4 linked regions of the Homo sapiens genome follow. The protein of the gene in region 2 purifies or fractionates together with the protein of the main gene of each other region. This does not show direct contact. Each region holds a gene or a part of one and is shown on either strand. Other genes may lie near its edges.

Region 1 (3,298 bases), on a different chromosome or scaffold from region 2:
GCATGGTGGTGCGTGCCTGTAATCCCAGCTACTCGGAAGGCTCAGGCACGCGAATCGTGTGAACCTGGGAGGTGGAGGTTGCAGTGAGCTGAGATCATGCCACTGCACTCCAGCGTGGGTGACAGAGCAAGACTGTCTCAAAAAAAAAAAAAAGAAAAAAAAAATTCCAGACCTCTTAGTAATGCATCAACAGTGATTGCAGAGTGGCAATCCAGTGACGGGAGAATACTCATTTGAGGCCAGTTTTCATTGCTGTGCTAGAATTCTCGGTTGTTTTGATCAAACTGCTTTTAAACGAATTGCTTTCGATCAAAACAACTTTGGATTGGGTCTCCTCACCCATCTCCCCAAAGGGCTGGCCCTGGGGAACCCCTTCCCCCCAGTTCGCTTAAGCTTGAGTCATGGAATAAGGGGATCCTCACTGGAGATGGGTCTCCAGGCTTGGACTTCGGGGCCACCTCCACCTCTGTCGCCATTGGACACACACAGTCACCGAAGCGTCAAATGTCAAAGGTCCTGTTTATTCCGGCAAACCGGAAAGAAAAAGTGTAAATAAAAAAAGAAACAGATCCATGCACTCAACTCCTGGGGGTGGGGGTGGGGGTGGGAGTGAGGGATGAGGAATGGGTGGGAAGCAAGGAGGGAGGGGTGGAAGGACAGAGAGAGAGAGACAGAGAGAGGCAGAGACGGAAAGAACTGGAGAACCAGAGCCATAAAAAGAAAAAGACATCCATAAAAAGGCAGAAAGAAAGAAGTGGTGTATTAAAAGCAGAGATCAATAAAGGAGAAGAGGGGAAATTGAAAAAATAGACAGAAATACATAGGCAGAGAACAAAAGCCCAGCAAAAAGGCGGGGAGAAAGGGCGTGACAGAGACAGAGAGATCACCCTTGAGGGACACAGGCAGAATGAAAAGGGCCCCCAGCCCCCAGAGGCCCCCCAGGCAGCAGCCCGAGCCACAGCATTGGCTCAGGGGTCCCCAGAGGTGCTGATGACGTGAAACAGGGTGACATTGTAGAGCACCTGGTGGCCGTTGTTCCAGGTATAGAGGGCGCGCTCCCGGGGGTTGTAATCCAGCATCGAGATGTGGGAATACTGGTTGTGGAAGGGCACGTCCGTGTACTCGTAACTGGACGTGTTGGTAAAATAGGCGAAGTAGACCTTGGCCCCAGCCAGGTGGGAGTTGGTCACGTAGAGCACACCGCAGATCATGAAGGCCTCGCCAGCGCTGCGCTTGGGGTAGCCGGTGTCCCAGGACCGCATGACCTCGAGGGTGTGCGGGTCCAGCCGGCTGACCACGATGTTGCCCGCGTTCTGGTTGGTGGTGTACACAGCCCAGAGCCCGCTCTCGTCCACCATGAAGTCCATGTCGGAGAAGCCGCCCCAGGAGTAGGGGAAGGTGTTGTTGTAACCGGCGCCCGGGAGGCTCCTCTGCACCAGCACAGAGCGCGAGCGGAAGTGGTATTTGACCACCACGTTGCTCTGGTACTTGTTATAGAACAGGGAGCCGTTGTACACCACGTGGCCCGTGCCCGCCCACGGCTGGGGCAGCAGGTGCTGGATAAAGTTCTGGCCTTTGATGAAGTCTCCCAGGGTACGGAACTCCAGGACCCGGCGGCCTTTGTAATAGCCATCCATGTACCAGACCTATGGTAGCAGCCGCTGGTCACTGGGGGGAACCACCACCAACGACCCAAGGGTCCCAGCACCAGCTACAGCCATTAGAGTTCAACAGTCACTAAGTGGTCATTAGTCATGGGAACTCTGTTGACCATTCATTACCAATTATGGCCCTAGTGTGACCATGATCATCTCCTGGTGACAGCATTAACCATGGGCAGTGAATTCAAGTGACGTCTTATCACTCAATGGCTGTCCAGTGACCACTAACCACCCAATATCCAATGACCAGGGAATTCCTGGGCCCAGTGAGTCCCCAGGGGCTGCAGTTTCTTGGGGAACTGCATGGCCCCAGTAGGACCCAAATCCCAGTGAGTGCTATTGGTCTTTTTTTTTTTTAAGTAATTTTTTTTTTTTTTTTTGAGATGGAGTCCCTCTCTGTTGCCCAGGCTGGAGTACAGTGGCGTGATCTCAGCTCACTGCAACCTCCGCCTCCCAGGTTCAAGTGATTCTCCTGCCTCAGCCTCCTGAGTAGCTGGGATTACAGGCGCATCCCACCACACCCGGCTAATTTTTGTATTTTTAGTAGAGATGGGGTTTCACCATGTTGGTCAGGCTGGTCTCAAACTCCCGACCTTGTGATCCACTGTCTCAGCCTCCCAAAGTGCTGGGATTACAGGCATGAGCCACCACGCCTGGCCTTTTTTTTTCTTTTGAAACAAAGTCTCACTGTTTTTCCCAGGCTGGCGGGCAGTGGCACAATCACGGCTCACTGCAGCCTCGACCTCCCAGGCTCAAGCAATCCTCTCACCTCAGCCCCCCGGAATAGCAGGGACTACAGGCACAAGTCACCACGCCCAGCTTATTTATTGTATCTTTAGTAGAGACAAGGTCTCGCAATGTTGCCCAGGCTAGTCTCAAACTCCTGAGCTCAAGTGATCTGCCTGCCTCGGCCTCCTAAAGTGCTGGGATTACAGGCGTGAGCCACTGCACCTGGCCACTATTGATCTTAAAACAGACCCTAAGTGGACAATGCTCCATCCCAAAGGACCCAGGGAACTGCAGCCCCTGGGGAGTCACTGGGCCCAGGAATTCCCTGGTCATTGAATATTGGGTGGTTAGTGGTCACTGGACAGCCATTGAATGATAAGACATCACTTGAATTCACTGCCATGGTTAACTAACCCCTGTCACCATGAGGTGACCAGGCGTGTCATCAACATCATTGTTGTCATCATGTTAACTAGCATTTGTTGTTGTTTTTGTTTTGTTTTGTTTTGAGACAGAGTTTCACTCGTGTTGCCCAGGCTGCAGTGCAATGGTGCGATCTTGGCTCACTGCAACCTCTGCCTCCAGGGTTCAAGTGATTCTCCTGCCTCAGCCTCCCGAGTAGCTGGGATTACAGGCATGCACCACCATGTCCGGCTAATTTTGTATTTTTAGTAGAGACAGGGTTTCTCCATGTTGGTCAGGCTGGTCTCGAACTCCCGACCTCAGGTGATCCGCCCACCTCAGCCTCCCAAAGTGCTGGGATTACAGGCATGAGCCACCATGCCCAGCCTCATGGATGGTTCTTGTGTGTCTAAGTGATGGGCAGTCATGACCATGGAAGCTACTAGAAGTCCGAAGGTCACTGAGCAGTGCTTGGTGGAAGAGGTCTCTTGTCCTTGGGAGGGCAT
Region 2 (5,280 bases):
AGCCTCAAGAAGGAGCTTCAACAGTGCAGGGAAAGAAGTCAGGTTTTAATGGTATTGATATGTGAGCAGGACATCCTGACATTGAGGTGGCCAGAAGAAGCCGCTGGAAGGAAGGAATGGGACCACACCACCCAACGCTCTGGGCACATGATGCTCAGGTTATGTGGACTTTTCATTTTTTTTTTTTTTTTTGAGACAGGGTCTCACTCTGTTGCCCAGGTTGCTGGAGTGCAGTGGCATGATCACGGCTCATAGCAGCCTCCAACTTCTGGGCTCAAGCAATCCTCCCGCCTTAGCCTCCAGAGTGGCTGGGACTACAGGCGTGTGCCATGGTGCCTAGCCAACATTGATCTTTTATCCAGTGCCACCACACACACATTAGCACCTCAAAGGTGGGAAGTCAGTCATCAGTCCTCCCCTGTTGTCCCTTGCTCAAGCTGGTGTGTCCCCGTGTTCCGTCTCCTCTCATCTGAACATGCTCCAGCTCTTCACATCTGTCTTCCTGACTGCTGCTTCTTTCTAAAGGAGGTAACCATGGGAGAAAGCAATGGACACTCTCATAAACACACGCACACACACACACACGCATATGAATGCACACGTGTGCACCCACACATGAGCACAGCCACATGCACAAACGCACACGCACATATGCACACAGTATCTATTGTCGGATGAAATCTACCACTGGCCACCACTTCTTCCCATAAGGTTCTAATAAGCCTATTACCAGTGAGCTTGACAGTAATATACTAACTTTAATCCAGAAATCATTTGCCCTTTGAATCGTTTTCAGGGCCACATTTGAGCAAATTTTCCTTTGCTCTTATTCTAAGACTTTGTCTGTGATATCTTATAGCTCCTTCATTCATAAACTCCATGGACAAAATTTCTCACAGGTTCCAGTGCTGCAAAAAGCTGTACTTCTAAGCATTTGAGTTGTTTTTCTCTTAAAGATACTATGCTTCTTATAATGGAGTATTTCTTTCTGTGCAGGAAACTTATGGATCAGATGTCTATTATGGCAACTTTTTATGTAAATTGGAGTTTTAAATCTAATGGGGGAAATAAAATTCTAAATAAATTATATGATAAATTATATAGAAACTAAAGAATCCTTTTATAAAGTGAATAATAACCTCTAAATTATCTTATTTATAAATCCAGGTCAGACGCGCTGGCTCATGCCTGTAATCTCAGCACTTTGGCAGGCCGAGGCAGGTGGATCACCTGAAGTCAGGAGTTCAAGACCAGCCTGACAAACATGGTGAAACCCTTTCTCTACTAAAAAATACAAAAATTAACCGGGCGTGGTGGTGGACACCTGTAATCCCAGCTACACGGAGGCTGAGGCAGAACTGCTTGAACGTGGGAGGTGGAGGTTGCAGTAAGCCAAGATTGCACCACTGCACTCCAGCCTAGGTGACAGAGCAAGACTCCATCTCAAAAAAAAAAAAAAAAAAAAAAGAAGAAATAAAAATCCAGATTTTTATGTATTTGTTTTTATATTTGAAACAACGCTATTAAATGCTACGTAAATGTTTTCATATTTGAAACAATTTTATCATGAATGCCATGACCAAAGTATTCTTCTGTATCTTCTTTCTTACCTTTTGTCATTGATGACTGCTTTTAGAGCATTTTCTAAATCTTCAGAAGTCATTTCCAGAACATTCAGGGTCACTCCAGCTCCCTTAGTCTCCATGCGCTTTGCATTGTCCATCTGATCACCAAACAAGGGCATCATCACCATGGGAACGCCATTGCATATGCTTTCATAAACACCATGGGAACCAGCATGGGTGATAAAGGCACGGGTCATCGGGTGACCTGAGATGCAAAATAGGGAGGATGTCAGCAGTTACATCTCTGAGTTTCACAGCTGGACACATCTAGGTTCTGAAAACACTCCAAAGACTCAGTGTTACTCACATGCCCTTGCAGAAATTTGCAGAAGAAAATGTGGGTTGAGATACCCCACTAGATAAAAAGCAATGTAGGATATGTTGGCCATAATATTTTCAAGCTCAACAATCCTTTAGAATAGCTGTGCTTAAGCCATTTTCTTAATTTGACCCTGGTTTGACCTATACATCCAATCCGCCCAACATACCAAGCAGATCGTTTTGGGGTAGCCACTTAACAAGTATCGTGTTGTTCGCAAGATTCGATGGTCGGGTTCCAGTGTACCGCCACAGGACCTGGGAGGGGCAAAAAGAGCAGAACGTAAAGAAAGAACATAATATGATTAGAAAACAAATCTGCTATACTAACTAGAAAACAGGGGTCCTCTGAAGGAACAGTCTTTAACAGAGTGGGAGGATCAGTAACTGTGAAGGCTTCTGAGGACTGGCAACTTCCGGCATCTTGTTTTGGAGGTTTAGTTACAAGGGTGTATGCACTACGTGAATTTGTGATAATTTATCAAGCTGTGCACTTAGGATTTTTTCACTTTCCTGCACTTTAAGGGAAAGTTTGCTTAATGAAACAAGTGGATGCAGAACTATAAGAGCAGAAATGTAAGACATAAATTCAGTGTTCTAACCAACAGCTTTTTGGAGAAATACTTCTATTTAATATGAAGAAACAATATCCCATTTATTTTATTTTTAAATAAATTCTCCCTAATACACTTTTGAGTCTCTTAGAGAAAATGATACTTCTGAGTGTGGTGGATCATAGTTTAATAGAGTATTTGAGAGTCAAATTGAAAACAATGACAACAACCACAACAACAAAAAAAACCTTTGGATTAATAGTTGGGAAGTGGCAGGGAAAAGCCAAATCTAAGGTTCCAATTAAGAGAATTAATCTGGAAGCTGGAAGTCTGGGATTAGCGCTCCTGTGAAAATAGATATGAGGCCATGGTATAGAATCTTCTTACTGTCTGAGGGATTTTGCCCAAAGCATCAGCAATTGCCATAGCTTTCTTCTCTGGAATTTCTGAGACCATTGATCCCAAAGAGAAAACCACAATTCCATGTTCTCCAGAAGCATTAATGTAGGCTTCAAATTCCTAGAGCCAGAAGAAAAATTTTCAGTTAATTTTTTCTCATATTCTTTGATGACTACATACAGTAAGTTATGAATTAGATATCTTCCTCTTAAGACTATGATTAAAGGCATGCGTGTTTGAGATAGAGTAAAAAATTATTAATATGTAAGTTTTACAGCATTTTCCTCTCCTTTACTTCCTTCTAAAGGAGGAAGGGTTCCTGCTTACAGAATTATCCTTGAGATGCAAAATCCAGGTAATGTGCTAGTTTTCCAAAAGAAAAGCACAGGTACATGCACACACATGCACACACCTGTACATACACACAGTGATAATTCCACTTAGAGAACACAGAGCAAGGCATCAGTGATACAGAAGGGAAGAGCTGGGAAGGGCGTGGTCCCTTTAAATGATATGGAAGTAGGGAAGGGAAGTGCTGGGTAGAAGAGGGTGTGGTCCCTGGCGAGGGCTCCACCCCCAGACCTGTGCCCATGGACCTAGGTGAGGACAGGCATTTTTGTTTTCCTGCCTAAATGTTTCATTTCCCAAAACCACCCTGGCCTGCCACGCCCCCATCATGTGCCTATAAAAACCCCAAGACCCTAGCAGGCAGACACACAGGTAGCTGGACATCGGGAGGAGCACATCAGCGGAGGGACGCAAGGACAGCTGGACATTGAGAAGAACTCACCAACAGGCACCGGCAGGCCACTGACCAGCAGAACAACGCGGAGTTTGGCTGAGGCAGTCGGAGGAGAGCCCAGGCCACCGAGCCCGGGCCACCGAGCCCGGGCCACTGAGCGGTCTGACTCCAGGGGAAACCCTTCCCATTCCATCCCCTTCTGGCTTCCCCCATCTGCTGAGAGCTACATCCACTCAATAAATCCTTGCACTCATTCTCCAAGCCCAGGTGGGATTCGATTCTTCTGGTACACCAAGGCAAGCCCCCAGGATACAGAAAGCCCTCTGTCCTTGCGACAAGGTAGAGGGTGTAATTGAGCTGGTTAACACAAGCTGACTATAGAGGGCAAAACTAAAAGAAGGCCATAACCCACGCCCACTGGAGCTTCAGGAGCTGTAAACATCCACCTCTAGACACTGCCGGTGAGGTCAGAGCCCCACAACCTGCCCGTCTGTATGCTCCCCTAGAGGTTTGAGCAGTGGCGCACTGAGAAAGTGAGCCCCTCCCGCTGTCACATGCTCTGTGAGGGGGACAAGGAAAGTTTTCCTGTTTCATCAACATGGCAATTCTTTTCTCACTGTAGATTTTCAGTGGTCCAATGAATCCCCCAAGAATCTCTCAAATGGCTTTATGGGTTTATTTATTATTATTATTATTATTAATTATTATTATTATTATTTACTTGAAGTTCTGGGATACATATGCCATGGTGGTTTGCTGCACCTATTGACCTATCCTCTAAGTTCCTCCCCTCACCCCTCACCCCGCCACAAGCCCTGGTGTGTGTTGTTCCCCTCCCTGCGTCTACGCATTCTCACTGTTCAACTCCCACTTATGAGTGAGAACATGCGGTGTTTGATTTTCTGTTCCTGTGTTAGTTTGTGGAGGATGATGGCTTCCAGCTTCATCCATGTCCTTGCAAAGAATATGATCTCATTCCTTGTTATGGCTGCATAGTATTCCATGGTGTATATGTACCACATTTTCTTTATCCAATCTACCATTGATGGGCATCTGGGTTGGTTCCATGACTTTGTTATTGTGAATAGTGCTGCAATAAACAAATATGTGCATGTGTCTTTATAGTAGAATAATTTATATTTCTTTGGGTATATACCCAGTAATGGGATTACTGAGTCTATGGTTTTATGTTTGCAAAGAATACTGAGGGCACTAATATGATTGTGTGATGTGGCAGGGCTTGCCCAAACTGAGGGGTTCCCTAGGACATGTGATGTTCAGTGCTAAAACCTGAACAGTCCTGAGGAAGCCAGGATGCTGGTCACCCTAGATGTGAGACACAGGAGACCTCTGACAGGGCTCAGCAAACGCAATTTGCACAGCAGGACTCCTGCCAAGCCTGATTTGGAACATGACCAGGAAAGCCCCAGACACTGACCATCCTTCTCCCAAGGTGAGCCCTCTCTCCCCGCCACTCTCACCAGCCCCAGGCCCTCGTGAGTCCTCTGGCTCTTAAGGGCTTTGTCTTTGCCTTTTCCCTTGGGCTCATCTAAAAGTCAGGGAGGACAGAGTCATCCTCCCCACCACCATGCTGCATTTTTTGGTTTGTAGCAAGAACACCCTGAGGATGGTTTTTCTGAAC
Region 3 (3,500 bases), on a different chromosome or scaffold from region 2:
GGTGGCATGTGCCTGTAGTCCCAGCTACTCAGGAGGCCAAGGCAGGAGGACTGCTGCAGGCTGAGAGTTCAAGGCTGCAGTGAGCTGTGATCAGGCCATTGCACTCCAGCCTGGGTGACAGAGTGAGACCATCTCAAAAAAAAAAAAAAAAAAGAAAATGGGCCTCCCACCAAGGGTGAGAAACATCAGAAAGCTCAGAGGACCATGCCTGCCCATCCACCTGTCTTGGGCTCCTGCTGAAGCCAGGGTCACCACATGGGGGCAAAAGACCTCCCTTAGGCATGTCCCAAACCACCATTACCTCCAATGAATACAGATAGGCAGGGCGTTCGTGCATCAGGTACGGCCACCAGAGGCTGACACCTGGCACCTTAAGTTGGCCCTGGGTCCCAGTCCCATTCGCCACGACTTTGTTTTCTGCATCCAAAAGACGCACTTCCAACTTGAACAGGTTACTGCCCTTGACAGAGATCTGGTAATTCACCAGCCCTGCAAGAAACAAGAGAGACCAGGGCTGAGGGAGGGACACGACCTGAGTCACACAAACAGGAGCGCCCTGCAGCCACCGCTGCCAGGCAGCCATTTGTTTCTGTTGCTTTTTTTAAATTTAATTTCTTATTTTTTTTTTTTGAGACGGAGTCTCACTCTGTCCCCCAGGCTGGAGTGCAGTGGCATGATCTCGGCTCACTGCAACCTCCACCTCTGGGGTTCAGGTGATTCTCCTGTCTCAGCCTCCCAAGTACCTGGGATTATAGACGTGCACCACCATGCTTGGCGAATTTTTATATTTTTAGTAGAGATGGGTTTTGTCATATTGGCCAGGCTGGTCTTGAACCCCTGACCTCAGGTGATCCACCCGCCTTGGCCTCCCAAAGTGCTGGGATTACAGGTGTGAGCCACCGCACCCGGTGCTTTTTTTAATTTAAAAAAAGATTTTGGCCAGGTGCAGTGGTCACACCTGTAATCCCAACACTTGAGGAGGCTGGGGTGGGAGGATCGCTTGAGACCAGGAGTTCAAGACCAGCCTGGGTAACATAGGGAAACCACTTCTTCCCTAAAAATACAAACAATCAGCCGGTCGTGGTGGTGCGTGCTTGCAGCCCCGGCAGCCCCAGCTACTTGGGAGGCTGAAGTGGGAGGATTGCTTGAGCCAGGAGTTCGGGGCTGCAGTGAGCTATGATCTTGAGGCAGGATAGGTAGTCAAGGAAGTGACCGTGTCCCTCAGACATGCCAACCACGGCACTGAGACACGTGACGTGTGAACAAGCATGTACAGCTACTACGCATGTGCAACCAGAGGACGGCCCAGAACGTGCTTACAGTAACACCTCTTCCCAGCTCCTTAGGAATTCATCACGGAAGACTCCCAGAAAGGGAGTTTCCCCAGTAATAATCGGTGCTGTCTCATCCTTACGAGCAGCCTGTCCTGAATTCTGTGTCTCAGGGTGAACTGTGCATTTTGCACTTCACTATTTTTTTTGAGATGGGGGTGTCACTCTGTCACCTAGGCTGGAGTGCAGTGTTGCAATCTCAGCTGACTGCAACCTCCACCTCCCGGGTTCAAACAATTCTCCCATCTCAACCTCCTGAGTAGCCGGGATTGCAGGCTCACACCACAATGTCCAGCTAATGTTGGCTAAGCTGGTTTGAACTTCTGAGCTCAAGTGATCCACCCATCTCGGCCTCCAAAAGTGCTGGGATTACAGGCATGAGCCAGTGCACCCAGGCTGTTCTAAACTTAACTTCCAAAATACCTTTCCTTGGCAATAAATTGCTCTATGGTGCATTGTCTTTGCTGTGGGATTCTTTTTTAAATTCTTTTTTATTCATTTATTTTATTTTATTTATTTATTTTTTTCTTAGATAGGGTCTCAGTATGTTGCCCAGGCTGGTCTCAAACTTTGCAGCTAAAGCGATCCATCCACCTTGGACTCCCAAAGTGCTGGGATGACAGGCATTAGCCACCACACCCAGCCTAAATTCTTTTAAACTTAGAACCGCGGCCCCACAACGGCTGTCAATAATCTCACCACTGCACTCCAGCCTGGGCCACAGTGCAAGCCTCATCTCAGAAAAAGAAAAAGATATATATATATTTTTTTATTTTTATTTTTTGACATGGAGTCTCGCTCTGTCCCCTAGGCTGGAGTGCAGTGATGCAATCTCAGCTCACTGCAAGCTCTGCCTCCCAGGTTCACGCCATTCTCCTGCCTCAGCCTCCCGAGTCGCTGGGACTACAGGCCCCTGCCACCATGCCCGGCTAATTTTTTGCATTTTTAGTAGAGACGGAGTTTCACCATGTTAGTCAGGATGGTCGCGATCTCCTGACCTCGTGATCCCCCCACCTTGGCCTCCCAAAGTGCTGGGATTACAGGCATGAGCCACCGCGCCCGCCCTGAAAAAGATATATTTTTAAAAAGAAAAAAAACTTAAAACAAAAATTTTTCTTAAATACAGACCGAGCGCTGTGGCTCATTCCTGTAATCCCAGCATTTTGGGAGACTGAGGCGGGTGGATCCCGAAGTCAGGAGTTGAACCAGCCTGGCCAACATGGTGAAACCCCATCTCTACTAAAAATACAAAAATTAGCTGGACGTGGTGGCACACGCCTGTAATCCCAGCTGCTCAGGAGGCTGAGGCAAGAGAATTGTTTGAACCCGGGAGGCGGAGGTTGCAGTGAGCCAAGAACACGCCACAGCACTCCAGCCTGGACAACAGAGCAAGACTCCATCTCAAAAACAAAAAACAAAAACAAAAAAAACAGGGTATCCCAGCTGGGCACAGTGGCTCACGCCTGTAACCCTTGCATTTTGGCAGGCCGAGGAGGGTGGATCACCTGAGGTTAGGAGTTCAAGACCAGTCAGGCCAATAGAGTGAAACCCTGTCTCTACTAAAAAAAAATAGAAAAATTAGCCGGGCGTGGTGGCGGGTGCCTATAATCCCAGTTACTCGGGAGGCTGAGGCAGGAGAATCGCTTGAACCCGGGAGGCAGAGGTTGCAGTGAGCCAAGATCACGCCATCGCACTCCAGCCTGGCGACAGAGCGAGACTCCAGCTCAAAAAAAAAAAAGAAGAAAAAAAGAAAGACAGGGTCTGCGTCTGTTGCCCAGACCAGAGTGCAGTGGTGTGGTCATAGCTCACTGCACCCTTGACATCCCAGGCTCAAGTGATTCTCCTGCCTCAGCAGCTGGGACTACCGGCACACATCACCATCCCTGGCTAATTTTTTAATTTTTTGTGGTGATGGCCTCACTATGTTGCCCAGGCTGCTCTTGAACTACTGGCCTCAAGTGATCCTTATACCAGGGCCTCCTTGCAAAGTGCTGGATGACAGGCATAAGCCACCATGCCCGGCGCCCCCCCCACCGAAGCTGCCTGTTCCTTGAGCACGATGTGTAGCAAGGGGAGATGGAGTGAGAGTAGCACCATAGAGAAGGGACAGGATTGCCACCCCGAGCTGTGTGACGTTAGGCCAGACCCCTCTTCTCCTAGCGAGGTCAA
Region 4 (3,500 bases), on a different chromosome or scaffold from region 2:
GCTGTTCTTGGGTAAGGAGTTTACACAATGCTGCAACCTCCCCAGGTAGGCTCCCCCTTGCAGCCAGGGGACATCTCTTCCTAAGATTCTCCAGGCTTCCTTGCTATTTCAGGAGCTTCACCAGAATACCTCCTGGGGTGTTGACATTGGGCCCTACTGGAACCTTCCTGAATGATCAGGCGAGCTGGGCATTATTACATCTGCTTCAGGGATGAGGAAACCAAGGCCCAGAGAGTTATGTAGTCCAAGATCCTGGAGCTGGTCAGTGGAGGAGCCAGGAGGGGAACCAGCTTGTCTGAGCCCGGGTCTGTCCACACCCTTCTCCATCTCCATCCCAGCCACCGCTCCTGCACTTGCCTCACCTCCCTCAAGTGTGAGCACCAGGGCCGGGCCGCTTCTCATCCCAGCCGCCCCTTCCCGCTGCTCACCCACCTCATGGCTGTGGATGCGGCCCTCCAAGTCCTCCAAGGGTGTGGGGCGGCTCAGCGGGGCCCGCGCCCAGGCCAGCACCTGCCTCTCTATCTGTCCCAGGTCTCCATCCAGCCGGGTCATCTGTGTCAGGAGCTTCTGGGCCTGTGGGTTGGCCAGGTCTGAGCCAGATGGAGCTGGGGGCAGAGGTGCTGGTGAGGGCCCAGGGCCTATCTCCAGACTGCCAGATAGGTGCCCCCACCAGGTGCCCACAGAGGGTCCTGTCGGGGTAGGGTGGAGGGGATGGGCAGGGCCACCCCAGAGATGAAATCCCCAGAGTGATGGTCCCTAACCCAAGGCGACCCCTGCCCATCACAGACCAGTCGGAAGTCGGAATCTACTCCTTCTAGCCCCACAGCCACCTCTCCCCGGGCCACCCTGGGTACCCTGCTGGCTGGGCCGAAGAGACTCCACAGCACTGGCCTTCAGGCGGCTCTGGACTGTGGCCAATTTCTGCTTCAGGGCCTGCAGCTCTGAGGCCAGCCTAGAATGAAGAGGAGATTGAAGAAAGAGGTCCCCACTCTGCCTCTCTCCCTCCCCAGCCCCAGTAGACGCAGCTTCAGGTGAAGGCCAGCCTTTGAGCAGGGGTCTGTTGGGCCATGGGCTTGGACACCGCAGGGCCGGCCTGCTCTGCCCACAGCCTGCCCCTGAGTATCCCTACACAGACCTACCGGGAGGCCCTGGCCACAGCATCAGGGTCTGGTGCTGGGATGCAGAAGCAGGCGGCGGGAGCACGCTTGGTCTCCCCGCCAGGGCCCTGCACGACCCAGGCGTGCGGGTCAGTGTTATCTACCAGCTTATACCGCTCACCCTGCAGCAGCTGCACCTGGGGGCACAGAAAGGGAGCAGCTCCTGAGGGCTCAGGGGCAGGGGGCCAAGGCCAGGGCAGAGTAGGGGCTGGGGACAGAGACAAATGGGGACAGCAGCTGGAACAGGGACAAGAGTAGGGTGGGAGGTGCTGGGGTAGAAAAGAGGCAGGACAGGACTTGGAGAGAGGAGGGTCTGAGTCAAGGGAAGGAGTAGGGCAAAAGTGGGCGCAGGAGACAGCTGGGGATGGAGCAGGGATGGGCTTGGGCAGGGGCAGGGGATGGGTTGGGCGGGGCTGGATGGTGGCAGGGGTGAGGTGGGGGAGTTCGCACTTCTCCTGAGTCCCAGTCGCAGATGCTGTCCACGTGCAGGGGCTGCTGAGGGGGGTTTCTTCGCTGTGGCAGAGGGGCCACATCCCGGCTTCGCCGCTGCAGGTCCCCAGTGGCCCTCTCGGTGACGGCCAGCCGTTTTTCCTCTGCCTGCCGGGGGCCCAGGCAGTGGGGGACTCAGGCCAGGCTGCATTGGAGGCTGGCCACACCATACCTGTCCTTCAAAAGGCCTAGAGGCTGGCCTTCATGAAGGCAGGGGTCTCTAAGTCAGCAAAGTAAAAGGAGCCCCTCTCTGGGGGACCTAGGATCCTGGGATCTGCTAGTTGCAGGGAGGGGGATGGCACAGCATCACCCAGGCCACCAAGCAGAAGCTAGACAGGCCTCAGAGCTCTCCCAGGCTGCCCTTGTCCCACTGCAAATGAGGAAACTGACGTCCAGAAGTGGGAGGAGCTTGCTGGTACCTGGCCAGCCTCCTGCTAGAGTAAACCCCCCTGCCAGCACCCAGGCCAGGGCTTGGGATAGGACTAGGTACCAAGGCAGAAGGGGTGAGGCCCAGAAAAATGGACAGGACCAATTCCCAGAAGTGGGGTGCAGACGGCCTGGTGGGGTTGTCTCACCTCCAGCTGTTGCAGCAGCTCTGTGGGGGCGCCAGGGGGGCCCCCAGGTGCAGGGCTGTACTTGGCATCCAAGTTGGAGTTGAGCTTCGCCAGGGTCTGGCTGACTGAGTCGGCCTCTTCCTGGAACTGAGTTCACTGGGTGGTCAAGGGCAGAGCCTCGTGCAACCTGCTGCCCACTGACCCTACAAACCAGCTGAACCTAAGCCAGCTAAACACAAAGCAGCTAAACCTAAACCAGCTAAACACAAACCAGCTAAACACAAACCAGATAAATGTGAAACAGCTAAACTAAACCAGTAACCGCTAAGCCAGCTAAACCTAAACCAACTAAACACAAATCAGCTAAACCTAAACCAGAAAAACCTAAGCCAGGTAAACCTAAACCAGCTAAACTTAAACCAGCTAAATCTAAACCAGCTAAACACAAACCACCTAAACCGAAACCAGCTAAACCTAAACCAGCCAAACACAAACCAGATAAACCTAAACCAGCTAAACCTAAACCAGCTAAACACAAACCAGATAAACTTAAACCAGATAAACCTAAACCAGCTAAACCTAAACCAGCTAAACACAAACCAGATAAACTTAAACCAGATAAACCTAAACCAGCTAAACACAAACCAGATAAACTTAAACCAGATAAACCTAAACCAGCTAAACTTAAACCAGCTAAACCTAAACTGTCACTCTCCCCTACTCTGGTCGGTCTTTCTTTTTCCTACCCAGGCGGCAGGACCTTTTATCACTGGTGTGCTCTTGCAAATGGGGTCTTATTTGTGCACTGAACTTAATTTTTTTAAGTGGGTCATAAAACACTTGGTCTTCGTCCTTCCTGCACAAATGAAGGGCACCGTCACCTGCCTCCCTCCAGCACCTGAAGTCTTTCTTGCTGGGACAGAGGGTATTGGAGCTGCACTTGTCCCAGCCCCGGAGAAGAAGCTGTGCTTTAAAGAAGCATTCCAGGTGCTTTGACGGAATTTTTGTCAACGTGTGTGATCACAGTCTTGTGGTTCTATAGGAAAATGTATGAAACATTATCTGCCCCCAAATCCCAGTTGCATATTATATCAGGGTTTCTCAACCGTTTTTTTTTTCATTATTATTCTCCTAAAGAGCCTTTTAAGAAATATTTTATTTAATTTCCCCCCACCTCATCCCCATAAAATTTTATTTATTTATTTATTTTGATAGAGATGTATCTATTTGTATAGAGACAGGGTCTTGCTATGTTGCCCAGGCTGGTCTGGAACTACTGGTGTCAAGCAATTCTCCTGGC

The links.
Region 1: the proteins of UGT1A10 (region 2) and OLFM2 purify together in Homo sapiens (affinity purification with mass spectrometry; one large-scale study listed by BioGRID and IntAct). This does not show direct contact.
Region 3: the proteins of UGT1A10 (region 2) and GUSB purify together in Homo sapiens (affinity purification with mass spectrometry; one large-scale study listed by BioGRID and IntAct). This does not show direct contact.
Region 4: the proteins of UGT1A10 (region 2) and EVPL purify together in Homo sapiens (affinity purification with mass spectrometry, with the first as the bait; one large-scale study listed by BioGRID). This does not show direct contact.

Annotation. Positions count from the first base shown.
Region 1 is NC_000019.10:9,853,218-9,856,515, forward strand, and holds the end of OLFM2 (noelin-2 isoform 2 precursor), read right to left. Parts: intron 1,647-3,298; coding exon 969-1,646; 3' UTR 501-968; downstream 1-500. UniProt on the Homo sapiens protein: Involved in transforming growth factor beta (TGF-beta)-induced smooth muscle differentiation.
Region 2 is NC_000002.12:233,764,770-233,770,049, reverse strand, and holds part of UGT1A10 (UDP-glucuronosyltransferase 1A10 precursor), read right to left. Parts: intron 3,017-5,280; coding exon 2,885-3,016; intron 2,202-2,884; coding exon 2,114-2,201; intron 1,831-2,113; coding exon 1,611-1,830; intron 1-1,610. Other genes in the region: UGT1A1 (UDP-glucuronosyltransferase 1A1 precursor), read right to left, coding at 1,611-1,830, 2,114-2,201, 2,885-3,016; UGT1A3 (UDP-glucuronosyltransferase 1A3 precursor), read right to left, coding at 1,611-1,830, 2,114-2,201, 2,885-3,016; UGT1A4 (UDP-glucuronosyltransferase 1A4 precursor), read right to left, coding at 1,611-1,830, 2,114-2,201, 2,885-3,016; UGT1A5 (UDP-glucuronosyltransferase 1A5 precursor), read right to left, coding at 1,611-1,830, 2,114-2,201, 2,885-3,016; UGT1A6 (UDP-glucuronosyltransferase 1A6 isoform 1 precursor), read right to left, coding at 1,611-1,830, 2,114-2,201, 2,885-3,016; UGT1A7 (UDP-glucuronosyltransferase 1A7 precursor), read right to left, coding at 1,611-1,830, 2,114-2,201, 2,885-3,016; UGT1A9 (UDP-glucuronosyltransferase 1A9 precursor), read right to left, coding at 1,611-1,830, 2,114-2,201, 2,885-3,016; UGT1A8 (UDP-glucuronosyltransferase 1A8 precursor), read right to left, coding at 1,611-1,830, 2,114-2,201, 2,885-3,016.
Region 3 is NC_000007.14:65,975,714-65,979,213, forward strand, and holds part of GUSB (beta-glucuronidase isoform 1 precursor), read right to left. Parts: intron 490-3,500; coding exon 302-489; intron 1-301. UniProt on the Homo sapiens protein: Plays an important role in the degradation of dermatan and keratan sulfates.
Region 4 is NC_000017.11:76,017,307-76,020,806, forward strand, and holds part of EVPL (envoplakin), read right to left. Parts: intron 2,348-3,500; coding exon 2,222-2,347; intron 1,755-2,221; coding exon 1,608-1,754; intron 1,295-1,607; coding exon 1,140-1,294; intron 953-1,139; coding exon 855-952; coding exon of another isoform or gene 789-854; intron 606-788; coding exon 433-605; intron 1-432. UniProt on the Homo sapiens protein: Component of the cornified envelope of keratinocytes. May link the cornified envelope to desmosomes and intermediate filaments.